4 separate regions of the Homo sapiens genome follow, and all the other regions are linked to region 1. Evidence: fine-mapped expression QTL. A gene starts in region 1. Each other region holds a variant in brackets. All regions are shown on one strand. Distances are from middle to middle.

Region 1 (7,387 bases):
AGTTGAGTTTGCTTTCTAAAATCAACAAATACTGAGTGCTACTTCTGTACAACTCATTGTGTTAAGTGCTGAATGTGTGTGTGTGCGTGAGAGAGACATATACTACAAGGATAAGACAGAACCCAGGTCTTCAAGGCTTGCAATGTAGTTGCTGATAAAAGACTGTAAACATCAAAGACATGATTAATAATACAGAGTACATAATTGTTAAGTAAGTGGCATAGATAATGTGTCTGCAGGAGTTCTCAGAAGGAGCAATCACTTCCACGGGGTGTGTGTGGTGGGGTGCGGAGGGAGGGGGAAATGGCAGACTTGTCAGGCAAGGTGCTTCAAACAAGGCACGGCACTTGAAATGAACCCAAAGGATGAAAGACTCTCGATAAGAAGGAAATGGCACGAGCAAACACTGGTGGTCTTAATGTCAGAGAAGGGAAAGAAATCAGGACTTAAAAGAAAGGACTGGCCCACACTTGAACAGCCTTGAAAGTTAAAGTACTTGTAGGAGTGGGAAAATGCAGAAAGGTGTTTTGTTGTTGTTGTTGCTGTTGTTTTGTTTTTTTTTGAGACAGAGTCTCGCTCTGTCACCCAGGCTGGAGTGCAGTGGCGCAATCTCAGCTCACTACAACCTCTGCGAAACTTCCAGTTCAAGCAATCTCCCTGCCTCAGCCTCCTGAGTAGCTGGGATTACAGGCGCCTGCCACCACCATGCCTGGCTAAGTTTTGTATTTTTAGTAGAGACAGGGTTTTGCCATGTTGGCCAGGCTGGTCTCGAACTCCTGATCTCAGGTGATCCACCTGCCTTGGCCTCCCAAAGTGCTGGGATTACAGGCATGAGCCACCACGCCTGGCCAAGTACAGAAACATTCTGAACACAGAACTATAAAATCTGGAAGAAGTTAATTTAACAAATGTCTTCTGTGGGGACAACTGTGTGTAGGACTGAATGATGACTGAAGATGAAGTTGCCTTTGGGGGGTACCTCACTTCAGCCTGAGACAAGGGTTGACTTGAGGTGAGAAGGGTACAAAGTAGGGTGGCAAGGGGCAGGTTTGCAAGTCCCGCGGAAGGAAGACCCAGCAGACCCCAATGACTGGCTGAGAGGCAGGCGACAAGGAAGCAGAGAAAGTCATGAGAGAAAGAGCTCTTCACAGCCTAAAGTTAGGCAGCTGGAAGAACATAAGAGTAAAGAAGGAAAGCTGGTGGACAGGGAGCGATGCAGAGCCTGGTTTTGGAGGTGTTAAATCTGGGAATATCTATATCACAGTGTCCAGTGGGCATCTAGAGATGGGGTTCTGGGGTTCAAGAGAGAAGAGCTGAAGTTTAAGCATAGGGGTATTCCCAATGGACAAAGAGTTGTGGGACTGAACAAGATTTCTCTGGGAGAGAGTGTAATGAGAGAAAAAACAGAATGTCAAACTTAAGCACCAGCGTGCCCCCAAGCTAGAAGGTGATGGTGGAAAGGGGTGTTCAGAAAGGAAAACCAAGACAGTCTGATGCCAAGAAAGGAAGGGGGGGAATGTCTCGTAGGAGAGAGTTGTCAACAGCAAAAAATGCTGCAAAATCAATTATGGGGCCTGAACACATATTTGTTGAACAAATGAATGAATGAAAGCAAGCCAGCCCTTGGTTTTGAGAGTCATCTCTCCTCAGCCAGAAGAATGGCCAGAGTTACCTTCAGACAAGAGAATTTCAATAAGTTTTACTGCATCCTTCCCATAAAAACACATTTCTGCCTCCACAAGTCATCCTGTCCACCATGCAGACATCCTTCCCTGCTTCCCCTGGTTCCCCCATCTTCCTTCCCAGTTTCCGCAACCCAAGCAACACACCTTCGGTGTCAAGGGAGACAGGAAACTCCAACTAGAGTTTCCACTTCATTAACAACTCTGCCTGTGGCTCCTCTTACATAAGGGGATATGTGGCAATGGGGTGGGAGAGGAGGCTGAGTTCTAGCCCCAGGTGAGCTCCTAACTAGCTGTGTGACTTTGGACAAGGTGTTCAACCTCTCAGGATCTGGGCTTTGACACAGAGTAGGAGATGGGTCCATCTGGAATCCAGACAAGTTTGAGCTCTCAAGTCTACGATATTATTCCCAGCGGGTCCTTGCAACACCCTCAAAGAAGGAAGTGAGTGTAAGACCCAGAAAAATGACCGACAGACCTCTTCCCGGGGCGAAATGCCAGGGCAGGCGGGGTGTACCATGAAAGTGAGAAAGCGTTGCGCGGGCCTGGAGGATCACCAGCGAGCGATCTCACTCCCAAAGCTGGGAAGGATCCCAACAATCCCAAGGGTGACTCTCACCCCGCACCCCATCTTTTATAGACTCCCAGACGGCCGAGAGGCTCTAAAAACCCCTGCGGGAAAAATAAAGATTTCTTTCCCAGAGTCCTGCGCTGCTTTGCAAGTCGGATTCCCGCAGACACGATCTGCAGCTCGATAATGACACAGTCTTTGGAAGGAGCGACTGTTCTCGCCTCGCTCGCTCCGAGTTCTGGGGACGCCTGGCTGCCCGCGCCGTGCCCCGACGGGCCGGCGTCCGACCCCGGCCGGAGCTGCCAGGCCAGCGGCGCCCTCGCCCCCGGCCTCCTCCCGATCCGTCGGCCCCGCTGCGGTCTGCAAACATTTCCTGCCCCCACCCCCACCAGGAGCTACCCAGTTGGAGAGAGTTGGTCGCGCAGCCGGCTCAGTGCTCGCAGTTGCCCCAACTCAGCTCCCCCGGCCGCCCGGCGCTGGGGAGCGGCCCCCTCTGGCTGCGGAGCAGCCCATCGGGGAAACCCAAGCGCCAGCACCAGTGGGGAGTCCATCGGTAAGCCCAGGACTCGGGCGAGGAGGGGGACAACTGGCGGGATGCCCGAGGCCCTGCTCCCTTCCCCATCGTTACCTGCTCGCTTGCGGGGGTGTCCCGGGGCTGCCGGCCTCTCCCGGCGCTGTCTCCCCACGCAGTTGCCCATGCTGGCTCCTCAGCCAGTCCCCATGCACCGGAGGCGGCGGGGTGGTCGGCTGCTCAGCGGACGGCGGCGTCCCGGGTCAATGGCTCCGGCCGCCCGGCATCGGGCGCTCCCCGATCTCCCCCCGGGGGCGCGCTCAGCCCCAGCGATGGCTCCGCCAAAACTTTGCGGGCCAGGGGAGAGAGGGAAGTGGCAGACTCCCCAGCACGGTCCCAGGTGGCCGGGCCAGGGGGGCCCGCGACGGTGCCCGGCCGGAGACCAGCTCCGCTGGAGGGGCGGAGAGAGGGGGCGGGCACCGCCGCAGCTACTCCCGGCTCGCTCGGGGCACCAGGCAGGGGCCGGCCCCCTGGAGCCTGTCACTCACCTGCCTAACCCCGCCCCAGGCCGGCCCCTCTCCCTTCCGCCGGCTCGCGGTGCCCGCGCCGCCGCCACCACCCGCCCCAGGTGCGCATGTGACCGACAGCACCGCCCCCTAGGGCTGGGCCTGATTTTCTCATTGGCTTCCCCCGTGGTGCGTACCGCCCCTCTCCCCACCCAGCCAGGTGCCCGCCCCGCAGCCCGTCTCCCGGGGAGCCGGGCTGGGAATTATTCGCCCTCAATCGCCTCCGGCTGCGTGCCCAGCAGCCGCCTTCCCTCTCGGTGCCACCGCCCCATTTCAGGCCCCGCCCCTCCCTGGAACTGCCTAGGCAGAAGCCGGCAGGCACGTGACCCCGGCGCCCCGCCCCCTTGCGCTTCCCCGGAGATTGGCTCGGGAGGCGCATGCGCGGAGAGCCCGTCTCGAGCCACCGCCCATATCCCCTCCCACGGTCTCTAGTTCGCGTTATGGCCGCTGCCGCGGCTGTGGAGGCGGCGGCGCCTATGGGTGCCCTATGGGGCCTCGTGCACGACTTCGTCGTGGGTCAGCAAGAGGGCCCCGCTGACCAGGTGGCTGCAGGTACGGCAGACGGCGCCGCGCGCCTTCCGCATGGGGGCCAACAGGAGGGAGCGGCCTCAGTACAGGCGCCGGGCGGGAAGGGAGGAGCGGGGTGACTTTGAGAGATTGGTCTCAAGGCTGGTTAGTGAGCACCGCGAGGTTCAGAGCCGTAACAAGTTAGAGAGTTGCCTGTGTCTTCCTTAAAACCATTTACACTTCTCATCTCCCTGTAGCCAATTATAGGGAATCATTACATTTTACAGATGAGGAAACTGAGGCTCAGCGAGGGCAAGAGGACTTGCGCAGGGCTGCAGACCAGGCAGGAGGGGGAGGTGGGACTCGGACCCAGGCGTTCAGGTCCGAACCGGGTGCTCACGCCACGAAGCCATGCTGTTTGTGGGAGGTTGACGTGTGGAGGTGCATCCTCGCAGCGTCCGCTCCCGTCGCGTGGCATCCTGGGAGTGGCAGATGGCCCCGCGCTCTGACTGGCTGGAATTAAGAGGAGTTGAGGAGACGGGCCAGGAGGAGCTGGAGATGTTCTGGGTGTCCTCCTTAAGACTTTCTCTCCGTTTCTTGCTAAAGTTCTTGATTAGTTTGCTCCATGACGTTTTATGTGGCGTTTGTTTTTGTCTTCTTCCCAGACCCCCACTTTCCTGCTTTTGACCAGTTCAGAGATCTCTTAGTTCAGACAGCTTATCTAAAATTAGAATAAAACGATTTCCAGGCTTCCGTGGAGTTCTGAGACTTTGCTCTTCTAGGAAAAAAAAAAAACTACTAAAAAGTTATTGAATGTTAGGAGGCCTTCAGATCTTGGGTTTAAGTAACAATATAAAATTATCTAATGAGTAGTTTTTTTAAAAAAACTTTGGAAATTTCGTATGCTTGGAGAGAAGTAAGGACACATTTCTCTTGGATATTGAGCGTATTAACCTTTAGAATATGTAAGAAAAGAATAGTGAATCTGCTAGAAATATAATACTTTGTTCGTTAGCAGTATTCCACTTTAATTCAATCATGCCACTATTGTTGAATACATATTATTCCCCAAACATGATGCAAAGCAATAGGAATATAAATACAAATTAGGTTAGATCTGTGCCCACCAGGAACTTATAGTATGCTGGGAGAGGCAACCATTCTGTAAGAGGTGTGTGCAGCGTAGTTTGGAAGCATCAAGGAGCAAATACCTGGTGCTGCCACCAAACTTAACATCTTACAATTTTATGAAATGTAGTGTGTTATCAGTGTTTACAATTTACAAGTACAGTGTCTTACCAATGTCATTTTCCCTCATATTTTATTATGAAAATTTTCGAATATCCAGCCAAGTATAAAGAATTTTATAAGGAGCACATCACTTAGGATCTATCCTACCATTAACATTTTAATATTACTTGCTTTATCATATAGCTATCCATCCATTTAAATTGCAGATACCTGTACACTTTCCTTTAAATACTTTGGCATGCATGTCATTGACTAGAGTTTGTTGACGGTTTATTTTGATGTAAAATGGAATATATAAACCTTTAAGTGTACGTTCACTGATTTTGACTAATGCATACACCTATACAATCCAACCCCCTACGAAGATATAGAACATTACTATATCAGTGTCATTTGTGATGAGTCTTTCACATTTATGCGATACGAAAACAATAATTTTGGATTTTTTTTTGATTCAGAACATATTTTGAAAAGACATCTTGAATGTCTTATCTTGAATAAGGACTTATCTTGAATAAGGACTGCAAATTCTTCTCTTTTTTTTTTTTTTTTTTTGAGACAAGGTCCCTCTCTGTCTGCCAGGCTGGAGTGCAGTGGTGAAATCATGGCTCACTGTAGCCTCGACCTATGCTCAAGCAATCCTCCTGCCTCAAGCCTCCCGAAGTAGCTGGGACAACAGGGAGTGTGCCACTGCGCTCGGCTAATTTTTGTATTGTAGTGACGAGGTTTCACCATGTTGCCTAGGTTGGTCTCTAACTCCAGGACTGAAGCCATCCTCCCATCTCAGCTTCCCGAAGTGCTGGGATTACAGGCATGAGCCACTGGGACTGCTAAATTCTTACAAACGTTTTTGCAAAATTTATATTTTTGTTTCTTTCTGAAAAAAAATGGTCTAAACTGTTGCTTAATTTGAATTCAACTCAACTGATTTAAGACTGTAACACTAGCCCTGTTGTAATTTAGCCCTCCTAAGAAAAGAAAGTTGGTGGTGGGCACAGTGGCTCACGCCTGTAATGCCAACACTTTGAGAGAACAAGGTAGGCGGATTGCTTGAGCCCAGGAGTTTGAGACCAGCCTGGCCAACATGGTGAAACCCCGCTCTACTGAAAATACAAAAATTAGCCAGGCATGGTGGTGCATGCCTGTAATCCCAGCTACTCAGGAGGCTGAGGCTGGAGAATCGCTTGAGCCTGGGAGGCAGAGGCTGCCGTGAGCGGAGATCGCGCCCCTGCACTCCAGCCTGGGCAACAGAGCGAGACTCCGTCTCAAAAAAACAAAAAGAAAAGAAAGTTGGTACAAAGGAATAGTAACAGATAAAAGTTGAAAAGGTTTGGTAGGGTTGGATTGTGTATAACTTTGGATTCCAGGCAGAGAAATTTGAATGACCTGTTATCTGTACTAAGAGTTGTTGTAGATCCTTGAGCCAGGGAGCCATAAAATGAAAACAAATTTGACAAGGATTAAGTTAATATTGTCAATCTTAGATCACAGCCCTAGTTAGGGTTGTTGAAGGATAACAGAGTGTTGAAGCGTTTATAGAATAAGATGTGCTTTCTAATCTTTCAGCCTAAATCAAGCTTTGTTAGCGCTAAAGGGACCAGCTAGCTTCCTGTTCAGTCACTCAGAGTAGCAGCCTGCAAATTTAAATGCAGAAGGAGCACCCTTTGATCACAAAAGCAGCTGCTGCCACCTTTGTTTTGTACCTGGGTTCCTGGTGAAAGTGTCAGCTGTAAAGAAGCTGCAGGCGATGGGAGGGAAATAACCTGGCAGCCTAAGGGTTAAAGGCCTCTTGGGCAAGCCTTCAAAGCCTGCCACTACCTGGCCCCAGCCTTTTTTTCTCACTGCTCCCTGGACGTTTAATTCCAGGCAGCCACCTTTATTCGTAGTTCCCTGAGTGCTTTCCTTCCCAATTCCCTTCACTAGCTCTGTGTAATCGAAGTTAGACCTGAGAGTCAAGGCCCAGCTTGAGTTCCCTACCCCTCCCCAAGGGTTTCCTGATTAACCCAGCCAGACAGCATCTCATACGTCAGAATCTTTGTAGTACGCACTTATTTCTCAACCACTCATGTATTTAGTGGACTAGTTTAGTAGCTGTTGCTGTATACATCTCCACATCCTACCCTCCCAGTTGTACCACCAGAATCTCCTGAAATTGGCATCAGTAGGTACACAATAAAAACTGCTTGAGTGAATGCAATGAGAAATGTTGAAGGAAGAATCTGTGGAATTTGAGTTCTAACTAGTTATTATAGGGCTTGAAGGAGATAGAGGACTCTAAGAAGACCCCAAGGTTTTGAAC
Region 2 (7,387 bases), 23 kb after region 1:
AGGGTTCTTGGTCCTCATGCTGGTTTAGATAAAACGACACCGACACACATGAAGTGGTTTTAAGTAGCGGAGAGTTTAATAGGCAAGAAGGGGCAAGAAGGAAGGGAGAAGGAAGAATCTTCCCTGTATAGAGGCAGAGGGAGGGAGGGCTCCAAAGCCAAGAGAGGGAACCCCTTTTATTTGTTTTTTGGAGACAGGGTCTCACTGTGTTGCTCAGGGTGGCCTTAAACCTCTGGGCTTAAATGATCGTCCCACCTCAGCCTCCCTATAGGCAAGCACCACATGCCCAACCTACAGCCTGTTTGGGGGTATATGTGTGTGGGTATTTGTGTTTAGTATAATATCATCTATATAAATTTAAAAATAGATACACAGAAAAAATAATTTATGTCACACATTAAAAAAAACACATCATACACCTGTTTTTATAAACTTTTATTGGAACATAGCTACACTCATTTATTTCCCTGTTGTCTATGCTACTTTTTTGTTAAAACAGCAGAGTTGAGTAGTTGGGATAGAGACCATACCCTGTAAGCCTATATTTACTGTCTGACCCTTTAGGAAAAAATTTGTGAACTCTAGTTCTGTAGAAAGGCAGTTTTGGGCTGAGAATGGGTTTTACTGTGGACCTGTATGAGAATGGATATTAAGAAATGTTCCCCTATTTTCCCGACTGATCAGGTGTCTACCTTCAAATGGGAAGGCACAGGACATGTCTCTTGGTGAAAGAGAAAATTTGTAGTGGAACCCAAACAGAAACAACTGTTATAGACTTAGGGAAGGAACAAAGCTCTTGGGCCCTTCTCGTGCCTATGTCAACTAATGGCTGAATCTGGTTTGTGCAGTGGTACACCTGATACTGTTCTATGAGAACCGGCTGAAGGACCATCATCTTGTGATCCCATCTGTCCTGCAGGGTTTGAAGGCACTTGTGAGTTTTCCTTCATTTCATTACATAACTTTGTTCAAGGGAGCCCTTGTCTAGTTCTCTCCTTGCGCTTTGGGTGTGATGGTTCACATGCTGAGGAGCAGGTGCCCAAGTGTGGGACTAAATTAGTGTTACCAGCTCTACTTCCGTTTTCCCTCTAGAGAGTAAAAGTGTACTTTGGGGGACTGGAAACCAGAGCCATCTGGAAAGAGCTGCAGAGAACTCATCAGCTTGAGAAAGAGTCTCACTATTAGTGCTTCTTCCTCAACCAGGATGCTGTGATTCTTACAGTAGCTAATTAGGCCTGTCGTAGGGTTGTGTCTTGGAGGCCATGCTGCAATTCCTTCGGTATTCACGTACCTTCTCCTCTCCCCCAGAGCCTGTGTGTGGCCCTGCCCCCAGGGCTGGCTGTTTCTGTGCTTAAAGCCATCTTCCAGGAAGTGCATGTACAGGTGAGGGATAACAGTCATGTTGGTATTCTCCTCTGTCTCTACCCCTTGACATAACTGGGATTCAATAGCAAAAATTATTGCCTTCTAAGTTCTGAATTCTTTTGGATCTTGTGAATGTTTTTATGCTCTTCTTCAGTATGTTTATATGCTCATCTTTGTTATTGGACAAGGAAAGGGGTGCATGCCATTAGATCTGACCTGTGTCCTCTTATACCTACAGAAAGTAAGGCATCCCTCTGTCAGGCAGGTTTGAATTATTGGCACCACTGCTGTGCTGCTGAGTCAATATCCATACCCTTTCTCTGTAGTTTCTCTTAGATTGATCTTATGCTGGTATAAAGAGCACTGTTCACTTAGAGATTATGAAGCAGGAACTAGCTGTGTCAGCTGAGGTATTCTTTGAGCATTTTCTTCACTTCTTTCTCCCCCACCCCCAAGTCCCTGCCACAGGTGGACCGACACACAGTCTACAATATCATCACCAATTTTATGCGAACCCGGGAAGAAGGTAAGAGACAGAGCTTTCTGGGAAATGTCAAAAGCAAGCACATCCTACTTTTTCCCCTATTAGTAGGACTCATTTTACCTGGGGTTATATAGAAGAGCTGGTATCCTGAGAGAGAATGATAAAGGGAAAGAGGGGGTCTGCTCCCTCCCAGTGAAGTAAAGAAAGGGTAGAGTTTGTTTGAGCCAGTGTTTTAAATTCTTGCCTCCACAGCAATGTGTATATTGTTGCACATCTCTTCACTGAGTACTTTCTTGGAATGGAAAAAGGGTCAGCCCTGAAGAGAAAGGGGAGGCAATGATAGCAGAGGGAGAACACAGGCTAGGAGAAAGCCCACACTTTCTGTGCTGTGGGACAGTATAGTAACCTTATTCTCTCCTTCCCAGAGCTAAAGAGCCTAGGAGCTGACTTCACCTTTGGCTTCATCCAGGTGATGGATGGGGAAAAGGATCCCCGTAATCTTCTGGTGGCCTTCCGCATCGTCCATGACCTCATCTCCAGGGACTATAGCCTGGGTATATCGTGGTAGCCATGATTAGCTCATTGGAGCTTTATCAGATGAGTGAAGCTGATAAACCAACCTCATTTTTTCTCTGTTGCCACAGGACCCTTTGTGGAGGAGTTGTTTGAAGTGACATCCTGTTATTTCCCTATCGATTTTACCCCTGTAAGTAGCACCTTCATTGTTTGATCATATATTTATTGAGTGTCTGCTATGTGCCAAGCCCTGTTCTGGGCACTGAGGGTACAGGTCACCAAAATAGACATCCCCGCCCTCATTATTTTATATTTTAATAAACTAGGAAATGGAAAAGCATTTGACATATGAGGAATGATTCAAAGCAGCATGTATTGGGGGGAATTCTTAAGCTCCTTAACACTGTATTTAGTGCTGAAGGCTACAGGATTGCAAAACACTGTCCCTGCCCTTGAAGGCTGAAACATTTAAGTAACAATAGGAGATTAGGTAGGAAAATGAGTAGTACTATAGCTGTTCAGAGAAGACAAAAGTTCAGTGTGAGCTAGAGTAGGCAGGAACTGACTTCACAGTTAAGATAGGATTTCAGCTGGTTTGTGAGGGATGCAGAAGATATGATTCTGGAGTTGGACAGGGCATCTCAGGCTATAGAAACAAAGTGACAAAACAAAGAAGGCACAATTGTGCACAGTGTACAGAAGGTATTTGCTCTGACCCTCTTGGGCCTTCCTCCCATTCTGCAGTTGAGTTCCCTTCTACTGCCAAATACTCAAGAGTTTCATCACCGTGTGGGTGTGTGTGCTGCAAGCATTAGTGGTTTGAAAGAAATAAAAGGCATTCTATTGCAGCATGCCAAACAGCATATTGACTCTCACTGCCTTTATAATGACACCACCATCTTTGCTGTAGGGAATTTCTTACCAGCTTATTTCAGTTGACATTATGTTACTGGGGACCACCTGTCTCCTGAAATGAATCTTTTTATCTCTTTCATAATCAGAATTCTTATTCTAACCCTATACCCTTGAAATCTTGAAAGATCCTGGTTTAGCTCCCACATTCTTCTGTTTTTACTTTGGTTTTTTTGGTGTGTGTGTTTCTTTTTTGTTTGTTTTGGTTTGGTTTTTGCTTTTTTGAGATGGAGTCTCGCTCTGTCTCCCAGGCTGGAGTGCAGTGGTGCGATCTCAACTCACTGCAACCTCTGCCTCCTGGGTTCAAGCAATTCTCTGCCTCGGCCTCCCAAGTAGCTGGGATTACAGGCGCCCGCCACCATGCCCGGCTAATTTTTTTTGTATTTTTAGTAGAAATGGGGTTTCACCATCTTGACCAGGCTGATATTGAACCCCTGACTTCGTGATCCAACTGCCTCGGCCTCCCAAAGTGCTGGGATTACAGGCGTGGGCCACCATGCCCAGCCTTTACTTTGTTTTATTTTGTGTTTTGTGTTGGTTTTGAAAAGATAATTCATTCACATGATTCAAAGTCCAAAAGGGTGAGAAATCTCCCTACCATCTTTTTTTCTCCATAATCAACCAAGTTATCAGTTATGTTTGTATCTTTACAGAGCTTTTTCATCTATATGTAAGCAAATGCTTTTACCACCACCCCCCTAAAATCAATGTGTGCACATGCGGGCATGTACACACACACACACACAC[ACT/T]TCTCCTGTACTTTGCTTTTTTCACTGAACACTATGTCTTGGAGAGTGTTCCACGTCAGTATATAAGTTAGCTCTTTCATTCTTTATGGCTGCATAATATTCCTTTGGCCGGAAATAATGAATAATTTCACTAGTCCTCTGTGGATTGTTGCTAATCTTTTGCTGTTATGAGCAGTGCTACAACTTTCATACATATGAATATAATGATAGAATAAATTCCTAAAAGAAATCGCTAGGTCAAAGAATATGTGCATTTATAATTTGGGGGAGAGGAACAGTATTTCATCCATTTTTTTGAAAGGTTATACAATGAGCATGATTCAGCATTTAAAGGGTAGATAATTAAACTTCTTTCATACCCCTTTACTGCTACTGTCCATTTTCCCATTAGAAACAATCACTGTTCACAGCTGTTTATTTTCACAGAGATAATCTAGGCAAAATAAACTTACAGATAATATTAGGAAGATTTCTCTCATTCAAGCAGATTTTTGTATGTTGTTCTGCACTGCAGTCTATCAGAAGCAGAAAGCTCTTATCAAGATATTAATTAAAACAGAGACACTTGGCTTTAGTGTAACTATTTGAGTTACAAATACTCTTTATTGTCTTACAAATCAGGGTTTTTATTGTTGTTGGTTCTGTTCTGTTTTGTTTTGTTTTTCAGACAGGGTCTCACTCTGTTGCCCAGGCTGGAGTGCAGTAACACAATCCTTGCTCACTGCAACCCCTGCCTCCGGGGTTCGAGTGATTGTTGTGCCTCAGCCACCTGAATAGCTGGGATTACAGTACGTGCCACCATGCCTGACTAATTTTTTTTTTATATTTTTTAGTAGAGATGGGGTTTTGCCATGTTGTCCAGGTTGGTCTCGAACTCCTCACCTCAACTGATCTACCTGCCTCGGCCTCCCAAAGTGCTGGGATTACACGTGTGAGCCACATATCCAGCCACAAATCAGTATTGTGTGCCATCATAGTGGATCTGATGAGCTTAAGGTTCAGTTTCTTCACTATGCTTATATGCTCACTCTAAGAAGAGGTTGGCAAACTTTTTCTTTCCCTTTTTTTTTTTTTTTTTTGAGGCAGGCTGGAGTGTAGTGGCACCATCACAGCTCACTGCAGCCTCCACCTCTCTGGACTCTGGTACTCTGGTGATCCTCCCACCCCTGCCTCCCGAGTAGCTGGAACCATAGGCACATGACACTACTCCCGACTAATTGTTGTATTTTTCTATAGAGACAGGATTTTGCCATGTTGCCCAGGCTGGTCTTGAATTCCTGGGCTCAAGCCATCCACCTGCCTCGACTTCCCAAAGTGTTGGGATTACAGGCATAAGCCACCATGCCTGGCCAACTTTTTCTATAAAAGGCCAGACAGTAGCTTTGTGGGTCATATGGTCTCCTCAACTCTGCTGTTACTGCACAAAAACAGCCTTAGACACAGGAACAGCTACAGTAGCTATATCCCAATAGAACTTTTGTTATCAACACTAAACTTTGAATTTCATATAATTTTCACTTGTCACAAGATATTCTTTTGGTTTGTTTCAAACATTAAAAATGTTAAAACCATTCTTAGCCAAACAATGTCAACAGGTTGATTTTTACTCCTAATGCAGAGTAGATATTGGTTCTTCCTTCACCGTCATCCTAGATTCCCTTATCCTTTTTCTTGGATCAGATCTCCTGTTTCCTGAGTTCACATATTCCTCATTTTGTGGTTTACCCCCTCAGTTTGATGGTGTACTTCCTTTAGTATTTTCCTGAGAGAATGTATGAAGAAGTGAGAATTTTTTAGATTTGTAACCCTTAAATGCCTTCAATCTTGTCTCTCATTTTTGACATTATGGGCATGTAATTCAAGAATAGAAATTCTAGGCCGGGCGCAGTGGCTCACACCTGTAATCTAAGCACTTTAAGAGGCCGAGGCGGGTGGATCACTTGAGGTCAGGAGTTCGAGACTAGCCTGACCAACATGGTGGAATCCCGTCTCTACTAGAAATACAAAAATTAGCTAGGCGTGGTAGCAGGCGCCTGTAATCTCAGCTACTTGGGAGGCTGAGGCAGGAGAATTGCTTGAACCTGGGAGGCGGAGGTTACAGTGAGCCGAGATCACGCCATTGCACTCCAGCTTAGGCAACAAGAGTAAAACTCCATCTCAAAAAAAAAAATAAATAAAAAGAGAATTCTAGCTGGATGCAGTTGCACATGTCTGCAGTCCCAGCTACTTGTGAGGCTGAGGCAGAACAATCACTTGAGGCCAGGAGTTTGAGGCTGTAGTGCACTATGATTGCACCTGAGAAAGAGGCCAGGTGCAGTAACTGACGCTTGTAATCCCGCTACTTTGGGAGGCTGAGGCAGGTGGATTGCTTGAGCTCAGGAGTTCAAGACCAGCCCGGGCACCATGGCAAAACCTTGTCTATAAGAAATACAAAAATTAACTGGGCGTGGTGGTCGAGTCTGTAGCCCCTGCTACTCGGGAGGTGGAGGTGGGAGGATGGCTTGGGCTGGGGAGGCAGAGGTTGCATTGAGCCAAGATCATGCCTCTGCACTCCAGCCTGGAAGACAGAGCCAGACTCAGTCACCAAAAAACCAAAAACAAAAACAAAAAAAAAATGGAAATTATTTTCTCCTAAGATTTTGAAGGCATTGCTACATTTAAATCTAGTTATTGGCTGGGCGTGGTGGCTCATGCCTGTAATCTCAACACTTCGAAAGGCCAAGGCAGGCGGATCACCTGAGGTCAGGAGTTCAAGACCAGCCTGGCTAACATGGTGAAACCCCATTTCTACTAAAAATACAAAAAAATTAGCCGGGCATGGTGGCGTGAGCCTGTAATCCCAGCCACTCGGGAGACAGGCAGGAGAATCGCTTGAATCCTGGAGGCAGAGGCTGCAGTGAGCCAAGATCGTGCCATTGCACTCCAGCTTGTGTAACAAGAGCAAAACTCCATCTCAAATAAATAAATAAGCCTAGTTATCTAGTTTTCATTTGCTGTGGAGAAGTCTGAATTTCTTCTGTTTCATAAACTTTTGTATTTACCATTTTTTTCTTCCTCTCTATAAACTGATGTTTGGTTCACCCCGATACATTGAAACTTCACAGTGATGTGCCTTAGTATTGGTCTATTTCATGTACTGTGTTGGGTACTTAGTAGGCCCTGTCAATCTGGTAACCCGTGTCCATTAGTCCTGTAAATTTTTCTTGAATTCTTTAATTGATGATTTCTTCCTCTCTCTTTTCTCTGTTCCTTCATTTTGGAACTCTCATTAATCTTCTGTTGGACCTCTGATTTTCTGACCTTTTGTTTTCTATTTTGTACCTCTGTCTTTTTGTTACTTTATAAGAGAATTCCACAGTTT
Region 3 (7,387 bases), 190 kb after region 1:
TGGCTCACTGCAGAGGAGGCAGTCTTAGATCCGCAGAAGCATGGTGTCCATATGGATGCCTGGGACAGCTGTGGTATCGACAGAGCTGTAAGTCAGGAGACACATGGTTGGGTATCATCATTCAGTATTTTTTTTTTAAGACCAGTCTCACTCTGTCACCCAGGCTGGAATGCAGTGGCTAAGTCATGGCTCACTGCAGCCTCAACCTCCCAGGCTCCAGTGATCCTCCCACCAGTAGCTGGGACTATAGGCACTCACCACCATGCCTGGATAATTTTTGTATTTTTTGTAGAGACAAAGTCTCACCATGTTGCTAGCCTGCAGTATTTTTTTTTAATTCTAGTTTTACTTATTTGAGTAGACACTACAGCCACATAGTTCAAAAGTCAAAAGGCAAACTATACTACATGTGTTGTGTGTCTTTTCAAAGATAGTTTATTTATTTATAGTCTGCCTCCATTTTACACAAGTAGTAGCTATAGCAGAGGCTGCTGTTTGCCTCCCAATAACCACTCTCCTCTTTAATAAACCCCAAATTGTAGCTGTACCAGAACCATAAGAACCCATCTCTATCCCCTGCAAAAGAACAAAGAGATGGGAAGACAAGGGGTCATTTGTCATCTTCTCTTGCAGCCAAATGGGGCCATGTGATTAAGTTCTGGTCAATGAAATATAAGTGGGCTATGTATGTATATAAATATATATATATATTTTTTGAGACAGAGTTTCGCTCTTGTTGCCCAGGCTGGAGTGCAATGGCTCAATCTCGGCTCTCCACAACCTCTGCCTCCCGGGTTCAAGCGATTCTCCTGCCTCAGCCTCCCAAGTAGCTAGGATTACAGGCATGCTGCCACCATGACCGGCTAATTTTGTATTTTTAATAGAGACGGGGTTTCTCCATATTGGTCAGGCTGGTCTCTAACTCCTGACTTCAGATTATCTGCCTGCCTCGGCCTCCCAAAGTGCTGGGATTACAAGCGTGAGCCACCGCGCCTGGCCAAATGGGCCATATTATGTGATACCTTTGGAAAGTAACCCTGTGAGGAAGGGGGCAAGCCTGTCTCTTTTTCTTTTATTTTGTTGCCTGGATCTTTTGAAGGCCCCAGACATGGTCCTGGACTGCCTACCTCTGGATCTTTTTTTTTTGAGATGGAGTTTTTGCTCTCATTGCCCAGGCTGGAGTTCAGTGGCCCGATCTCGGCTCACTGCAACCTCCGCCTCCCAGGTTCCAGCCATTCTCCCACAGGTGCACCACCACACCCAGCTAACTTTTTGTATTTTTAGTAGAGATGAGGTTTCATCATATTGGCCAGGCTGGTCTTCAACACTTGACCTCAGGTGATCTGCCTGCCTTGGCCTCCCAAAGTGCTGGGATTACAGGCGTGAGCCACCGTGCCTGGCCCTGTTTGTTTGTTTTTAAAAACACATTTTTTGCTTTCAGCTTTTGGCTCAGAAGAGGCCAAGGTGCAACTTTCTTTGGTCGTCCTGAATCCAGGTTCATCCAATACCAGCCGCCTCCACCATGCCGCCGAAGTTCGACCCCAACAAGATTAAAGTCGTATACCTGAGGTGCACCGGGGATGAAGTTGGTGCCACTTCTTCACTGGCCCCCAAGATCAGCCCCCTGGTTCTGTCTCTAAAAAAGGTTGGTGATGCCATTGCCAAGGCAACAGGTGACTGGAAAGGCCTGGGGATTACAGTGAAACTGAACATTCAGAACAGACGGGCCCAGATTGAGGTGGTGCCTTCTGCCTCTGCCCTGATCATCAAAGTTCTCAAGGAACCACCAAGAGACAGAAGAAACAGAAACACATTAAACACAGTGGGAATATCACTTTTGATGAGATCATCAACATTGTTTGACAGAGGCGTCACCAATCTTTAGCCAGAGAACTCTCTGGAACCATTGAAGAAATCCTGGGGGACGGGCACGGTGACTCACGCCTGTAATCCCAGCACTTTGGGAGGCCGAGGCGGGCGGATCACGAGGTCAGGAGATTGAGACCATCCTGGCTAACATGGTGAAACCCCATCTCTACTAAAAATACAAAAAAATTAGCCGGGTGTAGCGGCTTGCACCTGTAGTCCCAGCTGCTGGGGAGGCTGAAGGGAGGCTGAGGCAGGAGAATGGCATGAACCTGGGGAGGCGGAGCTTGCAGTGAGCCCAGATCGCACCACTGCACTCCAGCCTGGGTGACAGAGCAAGACTCCGTCTCAAAAAAAAAAAAAAAAAAAAAAAATCCTGGGGACTCCCTAATCTGTGGGCCATAATGTTGATGGTCGCCACCCTCATGACATCACAGATGACATCAACAGTGGTGTTGTGGAATATGCCCAGCTAGTGAAGAAGCACAAAACAAAATATTTCAATAAAGGATCATTTGAACAAAAAAAAAAACAAACTTTTTTTGGCTGGGCGTGGTGACTCACGCCTGTAATCCCAGCACTTTGGGAGGCCGAGGCAGGTGGATCACGAGGTCAGGAGTTCGAGACCAGCCTGACCCACATGGTGAAACCCCATCTGTACTAAAAATGCAAAAATTAGCCAGGCGTGGTGGTGTGCACCTGTAATCCCAGCTACTCAGTAGGCTGAGGCAGGAGAATTGCTTGAACCCGGGAGGCAGAGGTTGTAGTGAGCTGAGATCGTACCACTGCACTCCAGTTTGGGCGACAGAGCGAGACTCTCTCAAAAAAACACAAAAAACACAAAAAACAAACATTTCTAAAAATACAAAAATTAGCCGGGCATGGTGGTGCATGCCTGTAGTCCCAGCTACTCGGGAGGGTGAGACAGGAGAATCACTTGAACCCGGGAGGCGGAGGTTGCAGTGAGCTGAGATTGCGCCACTGCACTCCATCATGGGCAACAGAGCGAGACACCATCTCACACACAGAAAAAAGTATACAACTGAATGGTTTTTAGATATTTACAGAGTTGTGTAACCATAATCTAATTTTAGAACATTTGCATCACTCCTAGAAGAAACTTTGTACCCACTAGCTACATTGGATATTTATTTTATTCCTGGTACCCTGAAAATTGCTTTAAGGATATTATTTCAGTTAGTCTTCCAAAAACCTCTGAATTTGGTATTATTATTCCTTTTCATGGATAAGAAAACCAAGGCCCAGAAATAAGTAAACTTGCCCAGAATTACACATATTTCTAGTGCCAGGCCCAGGATTCAAACTCAGTTTTGATAGATGCCAAAGCCTGCCCTTCTCAAACCACTACCCAGATGCCATAACCCAGCCTCTGGAGTCTGGTCTTTTAGCTCTGCCTTATTATGTTCCTCAAGGCACACTGATTCTTTCTTCAGTGCCTCAGCTGGTGGTTCTATTTCGGTCCTACTGCCCGATGCCCTTAATGTTTTTTTGGCCAGGTTCATGCATCTTGGGTCAGAACCCCGGCCTCTTTCCCTTTAATCCACTCTTCTGACAGATCAACTTCCTAATGCCCAACCCTGCTCAGGTTACCCACGGCCTCCCCTCTGAACAGGTCCACATGGCCTCTGGAGTAAACTCTTCCACTCCTTAACACAGTGTCCAGAACTCTCAGGGGGGCTTGCCCTGGTCCACTCCTCCAACTTTATCTTGTCCTCCACCTCCACATAAACCTTTTGTTCGTGTCAACTGGGCCCTTGCCAGCTTTCAAAAACATCTTACATGTTCCTATCACCCCATGTTTGTTCCTGCTCTTTGTGTAGAGAATGCACTCCCTGAATTCCACCCATCTAAATCTTAGTCCAGCTACAAACCTCCTCATGCAGCTATCTCTGCTCTCACCAAGAGTCAGTGGTTCCTCCCACTCTCCTTCTTCCCACTCTCTTTGGTTCCTCCAAGTGAGCCCTTACCACATACCTCCTTTCTATAGTGAGTTGGGCTGGTCTAGACTGTCAGATCCATGAATCTAGAGGTTAGGTTCCTCTGATTTGCCAGGCCTGTGTCGCTTGCCCACTCCTGTAGCCAGAAATGGGATCAATGCCACTTAAAACACATGGACTGAGGATAAAGGAGCATAAAGGAGCAGAGAACCTCTACAGAGATGCTGCATGCATCAGAACAAAATCCTATGTCCAATATAGGCAGGATGTGTTTTTTCCATAAGATCTAAATAATCTCATTGTTTCTATGCATTTTTTTTTTTTTTTTGAGACAGAATCTG[G/A]TTCTGTAGCCCAGGCTGGAGTGCAGTGGTGTGATCTCGGCTCACTGCAACCTCTGCCTCCCGGGTTCATGCAATTCTCCTGCCTCACCCTCCCAAGTAGCTGGAACTACAGGCACCTGCCACTACGCCTGGCAAATTGTATTTTTAGTAGATATGGGGTTTCACCATATTGGCCAGGCTGGTCTTGAACTCCTGACCTTGTGATCTGCCCGCATCAGCCTCCCAAAGTGCTGGGATTACAGGCATGAACCACCGCGCCCGGCCAGGAATCTTTGGTTTGATTCATTTGTTCCTTTATTCATTCAACAAATAGTTGGCTAAGTAAAGCCAAATGTGTCACTTGACCAGCCTTAAAATAAAAAAGATCCTTTTTTTTTTTTTGAGATGAAGTTTCGCTCTTGTTGCCCAGGCTGGAGTACAATGGCGCGATCTCAGCTCACCACCACCTCTGCCTCCCGGGTTCAAGCAATTCTCCTGTCTCAGCTTCTCAGGTAGCTGGGATTCCAGGCTCATGCCACCACGCCCGGCTAATTTTTGTATATTTAGTAGAGATGGCACATTGGTCAGGCTGGTTTCTAACTCCTGACCTCAGGTGATCTGCCCACCTTGGCCCCCCAAAGTCCTGGGATTACAGGCGGGAGCCACTGTGCCTGGCCGAAAGATTCTTAAGTCATGAAGCTACACTCCAGTAGAAGACAACACCACTCAAGCAATCATATAAACACATCTAGAAATGCAGCAAATGTGAAATGGCAGCCTGGGACAGAGTTCTTGAGTTCTCCAGAAGTTGTTTAGGTTTCCTAATCAAAATGATTATGTGGAATTATGTTAACTGGGCAACAAGCATTTTCTTTCACAATTGGAAGCGGTCCTTATTCCAGGCCGGGGGTGGTGGCTCACGCCTGTAATCCCAACACTTTGGGAGGCTGAGGCTGGTGGATCACCCGAGGTCAGGAGTTTGAGACCAGCCTGACCAACATGGTGAAACTCCATCTCTACTAAAAATATAAAAATTAGCCAGGCATGGTGGCAAGTGCCTGTAATCTCAGCTACTTGGGAGGCTGAGGCAGGAGGATCCCTTGAGCCCAGGAGGTGGAGGTTGCAGTGAGCCAAGATTGTGCTACTGCACTCCAGCCTTGGGGACAGAGTGAGACTCCATCTCAAAATAAATAAATAAATAAACAAATAAATTCACATATTTCAGAAGAGGTAGTTTTGTATTTAATTCACATTAAAGTGTAAGTGAATGAACAAAAGCAGCTCTTTTGATAACTCTGAAAGAAGGTAAGTCCTATGGATGGGAATGACTAGATCCCTGGATGGGGATGTGTAAGCCTAAGGAGCTGAAGGACAATTTCCTTTATTTCTGATTTTTTTTTTTTTTTTTTTTTTTTAGACAGGGTTTCACTCCTGTCACCCAGGCTGGAGTGCAATGGTGTGATCTCAGCTCACTAAAACCTCCACCTCCACGGCTCAAGCAATTCTCCTGCCTCAGCCTTGAGAGTAGCTGGTACTGCAGGTGCAAGCCATAGCACCCAGCTAGGTTTTGCACTTTTTTTGGCTGGACGTAGCGGCTCCCGCCTGTAATCCCAGCACTTTGGGAGGCCGAGGTGGGCAGATCACCTGAGCTCAAGAGTTCGAAACCAGCCTGGCCAACATGGTGAAACCCCGTCTCCATTAAAAATACAAAAATTAGGCCAGGGGTGTTGGCTCATGCCTGTAATCCCAACACTTTGGGAGGCCGAGGCTGGCAGATCACGAGGTCAGGAGATCGAGACCATCCTGGCTAACATGGTGAAACTCCGTCTCTACTAAAAATACAAAAAATTAGCCGGTGTGGTGGTGGGCGCCTGTAGTCCCAGCTACTTGGGAGGCTGAGGCAGGAGAATCGCTTTGAACTTGGGAGGCGGAGGTTGCAGTGAGCTGAGATCTCGCCACTGCACTCCAGCCTGGGCAACAGAGCGAGACTCCATCTCAAAAAAAAAAACACCCACATAAATTAGGCCCAGCGCAATGGCTCATGACTGATTGCCTGAGGCGGGCAGATTGCCTGAGGTCAGGAGTTCAAAACCAGCCTGGGCCACATGGTGAAACCCCATCTCTTTTTTTTTTTTTTTGAGACAAAGTCTTGTTCTGTTGCCCAGGCTGGAATGCAGTGGCGCCATCTCAGCTCACTGCAAGCTCCACCTCCCGGGTTCATGCCATTCTCCTGCCTCAGCCTCCCGAGTAGCTGGGACTACAGGTGCCCGCCACCATGCCCAGCTAATTTTTTGTATTTTTTAGTAGAGATGGGGTTTCACTGTGTTAGCCAGGATGGTCTCGATCTCCTGACCTTGTGATCTGCCCGACTCACTGGGATTACAGGTGTGAGCCACCACGCCAGGCCGGTGAAGCCCCATCTCTACTAAAAATACAAAAAATTAGCTGGGTGTGGTGGTGCACTCCTGTAATCTCAGCTACTCAGGAGACTGAGGCATGAGAATTGCTTGAACCCAGGAGGTGGAAGTTGCAGTGAACTGAGATCGTGCCACTGCACTCCAGCCTGAGTGACAGAGCAAGACTCTGTCTCAAAAAAGAAAAAAGAAAAATGAAATAAATAAATAAAAATTCTGTTTTTTGTAGAGACAGGGTTTGCCATGTTGCCCAGGCTGGTCTTGAACTCCTGAGCTCAAGTGATCCACCTGCCTCGGCCTCCCAAAGTGCTGGGATTACAGGTGTGAACCACCATGCCTGGCCTTACTTTCTGATTTTGAATGGGGGAATCTTTGAAGCTGACTCTGAAGCCTCCATATCTAGAGGACAGAGAGGTGGGGAAATATTAGTGCCTTTCCTGACCTTCATCCTACTTCCTAATCACTATAGAGACTTTATGTGCAAAATTTCTCTTCATACCAAAACAAACTCCATGAAAATGGGTTACAGTGGTAGGAAAAAGGGATCTGTGCATCAGTTCACAAGACCATGGAGGCAACATCCAACGTAGTGGGCTCACAATGTACTGGCTTGCTCTTGACTATCACAAATGTGTTACTGCTTTGAAACTTCCCACCAGCCCCTGTGGCCTTCTGACCTGAGGCCTGGGTTAGGGTCTTAGTTTGTTCTCTGTTGCTTATAGCAGAGTTCCTGAAACCGGGTAATTTATAAAGAAAATAAATTTATTTCTTACAATTATGGAGGCTGAGAAGTTCAAGGTCAAGGGGCTGCATCTGGTGGGAGCCTTCT
Region 4 (7,387 bases), 730 kb after region 1:
ACTTAGACCAGTAACCCATACCAAGAAACTAGCTCAGTTGGTCTTGTGACCCCCACCCAGGAACTGACTCAACACAAGAAGACAGCTTCATCCCCTATGATTTCATCGCTGACCCAATCAATCAGCACTCCTCATTCTCTAGCCCCCTGCCCACTGAGCTATCCATGAAAAACCCTACCCTCCAAATTCTTGATGAGGTGGATTTGAGAATTATCTCTCATCCTCCAGCTTGGCTAGCCCCACAATAAGCACACTCTTTCTTTCTTTCTTTTTTCTTTTTTCTTTTTTTTTTTTTTGAGAGGGACTCTTGCTCTGTTGCCCAGCCTGGAGTACAGTGGCACAATCTTGGCTCACTGCAACTGGGTTGCCTCCTGGGTTCAAATGATTCTCTTGCCTCAGCCTCCCGAGTAGCTGGGATTACAGGCACCCGCCACCACATCCAGCTAATTTTTTTGTATTTTTGGTAGAGATGGGGTTTCACCATGTTGGCCAGACTGATCTCTAACTTCTGACTTCAGGTTATACGCCTGCCTTGACCTCCCAAAGTGCTACTTGGGAGGCTGAGGTGGGCGGATCACTTGAACCCCGGAGGCGGAGGTTGCAGGGAGCTAAGATTGGGCCACTGCACTCCAGTCGGGGCAACAGAGTGAAACTCTATCTCAAACAACAACAAAACGGAAACTTATTGGCTGGGTGCAGTGGCTCACACCTATAATCCCAGCATACTGGGGAGGCCAAGGTAGATAGATCAATGAGCCCAGGAGTTTGAGACCAACATGGTGAAACCTTGTCTCTACAATAAATATAAAAATTAGCTGGGCATGGTAGTATGAACCTGTAGTCTCAGCTACTTAGGAGACTGAGGTGGGAGGATCACCTGAGCCCCAGGAGGTCAAGGTGGCAGTAAGCCATGAACGTGCCACTGCACTCCAGTCTGGAGGGCATGAAAAAAAAAAAAGAAATGGAAACATATTAATCCCAAACCAGTGTCAATAAGTTGGGGAAGAAGAGGAGCCATTGAAAAAGATTTTTTTTATTGTTTTATTTATTATTTTTTTTTGAGACAGAGTCTCTCTCTGTTACCTGGGTTGGAGTGCAGTGGTGTGATCTTGGCTCACTGTGACCTTTGCCTCCCGGGTTCAAGTGATTCTCCTTCCTCAGCTTCCCGAGTAGCTGGGATTACAGGCGCATGCTACCATGCCCAGCTTATTATTATTATTATTATTTGTATTTTTAGTAGAGACAAGGTTTCACCATGTTGGCCAGGGTGGTCTTGAACTCCTGAGCTCAAGCAATCTGCCTGCTTTAGCCTCCCAAAGTGCTGGGATTACAGGCGTGAGCTACCTTGCCTGGCCCCTAGTCTTAACTTGTAATAGATACACAATAATTATTTTTAAATTAATTTTTTACAGTAATTATTAAATGAATGAATGAATAAACAAACACTTGAGGCACAGTCTGATGTATTAGAAAGAACGCAGGCTTGGAGTTGTATTAGCCTGTGTTGAATCTTGGCTTTTTGGTGTGTGGCCTTGGGTAAGCTACTTGACTTCAGTATCCATCCCAAAAATGGATTCATGGTTCCTCTCTCTTAGAATCATTAAATAAATGAAATGAAATTAAATTAATTAAATTAAATGGAACAATGCATATGCATACTTATGTCAAAGCTGGCATTCTTTTTCCTATGGGTGAGCATGTAAGGTAGCTCATATTAAGCCTAACTTCTACTATAAAAGGGGAAACCCCAAAATAGGACTCATAAAACCAATGCCAGAGACTAGAGCATAAATTCTATATTATTCTTTGGGGTGACTTCTGTTCCTCTGTGCTGCATTCTGGGAATTTTCTTCTGACCCCTGCTCCATTCACTGATTGATTTGACTGTAGCTAATAAAGTATAAACCCATCTGTTGAGGGTTTTTGTTTTGTTTTTTTGTTTTCTGAGACTGAGTCTCACTCTGCTTCCCAGGCTAGAGGGCAGTGGTGTGATCTCTGCAGACTGCAACCTCCGTCCCCTGGGTTCAAGCAGTTCTACTGCCTCAGCCTCCCAAGTAGCTGAGATTACAGGTACGCACTACCACACCTGGCTAATTTTTATAGTTTTAGTAGAGATGGGGTTTCACCATGTTGGCCAGGCTGGTCTGTAACTCCTGGCCTCAAGTGATTCACCCGCCTAGGCCTCCCAACCATCTGTTGAGTTTTAGGTTTTTATTATTATACTCATGTAATGTAGTAAATTACACATAATATGAAATGTATTTTTTTCTGAAAACATGTCAGTTTCATATAAAACTTATTTTAAAACCTTTAAAAGTGTATAGTTCTGTAGCATAAATATATTCACATTGTTGTGCAACCATCACATCCATCTATCTGCAGAACATTTCATTTTCCCAAGCTGAAACCCGGTACCCATTAAACCAGGGTACAGAGACCTGTATCAGTCCGTGGTCTGTTAGGAACCGCGTCACACAGCAGGAGGTGAGTGACGAGTGAGGGAGCAAACCTTCATCTGTATTTACAGCCGCTCCCAGTCATTTGCGTTACCACGTGAGCTCCGCCTCCTGTCAGATCAGCAGCGGTATTACATTCTCATAGAAGCATGAATTCTACTGTGAACTGCACATATGAGGGATCTAGGTTGCCCACTGTTGATGAGAATCTAATGCCTGATGATCTGTCACTGTCTCCCATCACCTCCGGATGGGACTGCCTAGTTGCAGGGAAACAAGCTCAGGGCTCCGAAGGATTCTACATTATGGTGAGTTGTATAATGATTTCATTATGTATTAGAATGTAATCATAACAGAAATAAAGTGCACAGTAAATGTAAGGCCCTTGAATCATCCCAAAAATATCTTCCCCTCCCATACCTGTCCATGGAAAAATTGTCTTCCACAAAACCAGTCCCTGGTGCCAAAAAGATTGAGGACTGCTGCATTAAACAATAACTCCTGATTCTCTTCCCCCAACCCCAGTCCTTAGTAACCATTGTTGCACTTCCTGTCTCTGTGAATTTTATTACTCTAGTTACCTCATATAAGTGGAATCATGCAATGTTTGTCCTTTTGCATCTGGCTTACTTCACCTAGCGTATCTCATCCATGGTTCATCCATGTTGTAGCATGTGTCAGAATGTCCTTCCTTTTAAAGGCTGACTCATATTACATTGTATGTATATCACGCATTTTGTTTATCCATTCATCAGTTGATGAACATTTGAGTATGTATATCACACTGTATATATATCTGTATGTATATCACACATTTTGTTTGTTCATCCATCAGTTGATGAACATTTCAGTTGTTTTCACCTTTCGGCTATTGTGAATAATACTGCTATGAACATGGGTGTATAAATATCTGTTCAAATCTTTGCTCTTAATTCTTTAGTATGTATATCCAGAAGTAGAATTGCTGGATCATGTGGTAATTTTGTTTAAATTTTTGAGGAACCACTATAGTGTTTTTTTGTTTTGTTTTGTTTTGTTTTGTTTTGTTTTTTGAGA[T/C]AGAGTCTTGCTCTGTCGCCCAGACTGGAGTGCAGTGGCCTGATCTCTGCTTACTGCAAGCTCTGCCTCGCGGGTTCACACCATTCTCCTGCCTCAGCCTCCCAAGTAGCTGGGACTACAGGCACCCACCACCAAGCCTGCTAATTTTTTGTATTTTTTAGTACAGACGGGGTTTCACCATGTTTGCCAGGATGGCGTCAATCTCCTGACCTCGTGATCCGCCCGCCTCGGCCTCCCAAAGTGCTGGGATTACAGGTGTGAGCCACCACGCCCGGCCTTTTTTTTTTTTTTTTTTTTTTTTTGAGACGGGAGTCTCGCTCTGTCCGCCAGGCTGGAGTGCAGTGGCGCCATCTCGGCTCACTGCAAGCTCCGCCTTCCAGGTTCACGCCATTCTCCTGCCTCAGCCTCCCGAGTAGCTGGGACTACAGGCGCCGGCCACCACGCCCGGCTAATTTTTTGTATTTTTAGCAGAGACAGGGTTTCACTGTGTTAGCCAGGATGGTCTCAATCTTCTGACCTCGTGATCCGCCTTTCTCGGCCTCTGAAAGTGCTGCGATTATAGGCGTGAGCCACGGCGCCCGGCCTTTGGCCTCATAATTCTTTATTTCCTTCCTAGGTCTCTTATTACTTTTAATATTTACCCAACCTTTTTGAGTCATCCATAATGAATGTATAGTTCATTTGATTTGATTTGATTTATTTTTTTGAGATGGAGTCTCGCTCTGTCACCCAGACTGGAGTTCAGTGGTGTGATCTTGTCCCACTGCAGCCTCCACCTCCTGGGTTCTAGTGATTCTCCTGCCTTAGCCTCCCAGGTAGCTGGGAGTACAAGCACGTGCCACCACACTTGGCTAATTTTTGTATTTCTAGTAGAGACGGAGTTTCACCATGTTGACCAGGCTGGTCTCAAACTCCTGACTTCAGGGGATCTGCCCGCCTCGGACTCCCAAAGTGCTAGGATTGCAGGAGTGAGCCACTGCGTCTGGCCATGAATGTATAGTTCAAATACCTAGTCCACTGACCTTGCCTTTTAAAACAGTTGTGTCTGGGCTCAGTGGCTCAGGCCTGTAATCTCAGCACTTTGGGAGGCCAAAGCAGGAGGATTGCTTGAGTACAGGAGTTCGAGACCAGCCTGGGCAACATAGTGAGACCCTGTTTCTTCGAAAAATAAAAAAAATTAGCCAGGCGTGGTGATGCCTGCCTGTAATCTTAGTCCTTTGGGAGGCTGAGGCAGGAGGATCACCTGGGCCTGGAAGGTTGAGGCTGCAGTGAGCTATGACTGTGCCACTGCACTCCAGCCTGGGCAACAGAGAGATCCTGTTTCAAAAAAAAAATTAGTCCTCAATTCATTAGGAGTGTGGTTTACATGAATCGCCAGTAAAAGGAACATAGGGCTTGAATAGGCACTTATCTTTACCTGTATCTCACTGCCAGGGTGAAATCTAAAGCATTTATCACTAGTCCGGCTGAGGCACCTTCAGAACAGATGTTGGTGTAGGGTTGGAGCCCCCTGCTGGCAGCCTCCTGCTGTGCGTGACATTACTCCTTTGGGGGAGTCTCAAACGGGGACCCAGGAAGTTACAGGGAAGGGATGATAAAGGCCACTTGGAAGAACTGGGCAGTGACTGTTGATTAACAGTACGTAAAAGTAAGTAAAGGTGTTTCCATTTTAATGCAGCACATGCTGTCTTATTCCCCTGGGAAGACAAGCCTGGTACAAGGAACTGTGTGTGTAGTTTACTGTGGACAGTGGTGATACCAGGGAGCAGGGGTGGAGACTAAGGAAACTGACCAGGGAAGAAGGAAAACCAAGCCAGTCACATTGGTGACTGCAGTGGGCACGGGGGCTTCCATCCCAACAGCAACTTCTGAGGAGTTGTATACAGATAGTGCCTCAAACTGACCACCCAATGGATGAAAGGCAGAAGTTGTAAGTGTTCCCCCATGAACTCCCATCTAGCATTGACAGAGGGTCATCTTGAAGGTTGTAACGCCCTTGCGCTTGTAGGTTTCACATCAGCGAGTGCCGGGGTGCTCCCGCAGGCACGTCGCACCACAGCATCGGAGAACCTTGCGGGGTCAGGGGAAGATGTACAGCGCATGCTTGAGGTGAGGCAGGGCCACAGGAGGTGAGTTGAAGCCTGCATAGAATTGTGTCCTCAAATAATAGCAGGAATCGAGGTGTGGCCAAGAGGATCCAAGGCAGTGCGTGGAGCACCCAACACTTAGGCATTCCTCAAGAACCTTGTGTTCGGCAAAATCAAGCAGTAAGAGTAATAGGGCTTATGGGGAAAATAGGGTTAGAGGCAGATCACTCGTAATCTGTGGAAATCTGTAACCAGAATGCTAATAAAAATAGTGGTTTGCACATAAGGAGATAACTTGGACTGCCCAGACTGCCTCAGTGTGGCTGGAGACTGTCACAGTAGATATTTAAAATGTTCAATGTGATAGAGTGGGAACATGCTGGCAACACTTTAATTAGAGCTGGTCTGGCAAGTGTTGAAAGAGTGCAGATGGTGGTGGGCTCTGAGTGCTAGTCAGGTGGATCCAGGAAGCAGTGCAACCTGGCTGAGAGCTGGGGAAAAGGGCCCTGGGTGTGTGTGCTCATTGCCATTTTCCTAAAATACAGCTGAAAGGGCTCATGCAATTAGTGTAGCAGCTGAGCTGAGCGCTTCTTCCTTCCCTGATGATGGCTATAATTTTACTTCTGCAGTGAGCTGATTCCCATAACAGAAATGTGCATTCTAGCAGAACAAATGTCTTTCTGGGTCTCACTGTATGGTGAGACTGTGGTGCATACTGATTAAGTATTGGCCCATTTCACTGCTCCCGTGGGCTTGGCTTGCTCCATGCTGATACCGCACTTCCTCATTTCAGCCCTCAGACTCTGAGCCATTGCCCACCAGGTTTCCAGATGCAGTACCCTCTGTAGCTCCTCACCTGCCATTTCGAATCCTGTTTATTGACAGGTGTTAATGTGGACAGCCTATTTATTAATGAACTTCTCCGGCTTAATTTATAAGCCTTTCTCCTCCCATGAGAATGTTCCCCATTTCCCTCATAACTGCCCCCATGAGAATCCCTGATGAGTGAGCTCTGGTGCTTGGACTCCATCTCCCTCTCTTGCTTCAGATGTACCCATTATACATCAAAATGAGCTGCATAGGAGGCCAGCTGCCTCCTGTAATCCCAGTGGCTCACACCTGTAATCCCAGCACTTTGGGAGGCTGAGGCGGGTGGATCACCTGAGGTCAGGAGTTTGAGACCAGCTTGGCCATCATGGCGAAACCCCGTCTCTACAGAAAATACAAAGATTAGCTGGGTGTGGTGGCGCATGAGAATCACTTGAACCTGGGAGGCGGAGGTTGCAGTGAGCCGAGATCATACCACTGCACTCCAGCCTGGGAGACAGAGAGACAGAGCCAGACTCCTAAAAAAAAAAAAAAAAAAAAAAAAAAAACAGAGCTGCATAGGGATGAAGGAGATGAAAAACAAAGCTACCAGTAAAAAAGCAAGTCAGTCATTTATCACAGCTATGGTAAACAATCATTTTTCTAATTATTGAACAAATAAAAGAATAACAGTAATAATACAATGATGTAACTACTTTTATGAGTTGCTATGTGCCAGGTGCACTTTATGCATTATCTCTTTTTTTTTTTTTTTTTTTTGAGACAGAGTCTCGCTCTGTTGCCCAGGCTGGAGTGCAGTGGCGCAGTCTCAGCTCACTGCAACCTCCTCCTCCCGGGTTCACGCCATTCTCCTGCCTCAGCCTCCTGAGTAGCTGGTATTACAGGCGCCCACCACCACGCCCAGCTAATTTTTTGTATTTTTAGTAGAGACGAGGTTTCACCATGTTAGCCAGGATGGTC

Alleles and levels. Alleles are on the strand shown, and positions count from the first base shown. SD is a standard deviation of normalised expression in the study named. Not every link is listed here.
For the expression in monocytes of the gene that starts at base 3,733 in region 1, allele T in region 2 goes with a higher level than allele ACT (moderate effect, 0.46 SD a copy in Quach 2016).
With allele T in place of C in region 4, the expression in rectum of the gene that starts at base 3,733 in region 1 is lower (large effect, 2.0 SD a copy in CEDAR).

Evidence for each region. PIP is the estimated chance that this variant, and not a neighbour inherited with it, causes the effect.
Region 2: its variant is fine-mapped to the expression of MMS19 in monocytes (Quach 2016, PIP 0.95).
Region 3: its variant is fine-mapped to the expression of MMS19 in monocytes after R848 (Quach 2016, PIP 0.95).
Region 4: its variant is fine-mapped to the expression of MMS19 in rectum (CEDAR, PIP 0.95).

The regions. Positions count from the first base shown.
Region 1 is chr10:97,494,768-97,502,154 of GRCh38, reverse strand. It overlaps MMS19 (MMS19 cytosolic iron-sulfur assembly component), which reads left to right and starts at 3,733. Exons shown (of 31, transcript NM_022362.5): 1 at 3,733-3,882. The coding sequence starts at 3,771. It overlaps UBTD1 (ubiquitin domain containing 1), which reads right to left and starts at 3,231. Exons shown (of 3, transcript NM_024954.5): 1 at 2,882-3,231. The coding sequence starts at 2,951. RefSeq lists silencers at 2,612-2,811, 2,822-3,581 and enhancers at 3,822-3,991, 4,352-4,401, 4,078-4,608.
Region 2 is chr10:97,471,851-97,479,237 of GRCh38, reverse strand. It overlaps MMS19 (MMS19 cytosolic iron-sulfur assembly component), which reads left to right. Exons shown (of 31, transcript NM_022362.5): 4 at 849-934; 5 at 1,309-1,383; 6 at 1,822-1,891; 7 at 2,275-2,403; 8 at 2,494-2,555. Among named protein-coding and RNA genes, the nearest start is that of MMS19, 23 kb to the left of the region's middle. The variant ACT/T (reference allele first, on the strand shown) is at 4,025.
Region 3 is chr10:97,304,094-97,311,480 of GRCh38, reverse strand. It overlaps the pseudogene RPL12P27. Among named protein-coding and RNA genes, the nearest start is that of FRAT1, 11 kb to the left of the region's middle. The variant G/A (reference allele first, on the strand shown) is at 4,166.
Region 4 is chr10:96,763,479-96,770,865 of GRCh38, reverse strand. No RefSeq gene overlaps it. Among named protein-coding and RNA genes, the nearest start is that of PIK3AP1, 47 kb to the right of the region's middle. RefSeq lists a silencer at 4,891-4,980. The variant T/C (reference allele first, on the strand shown) is at 3,513.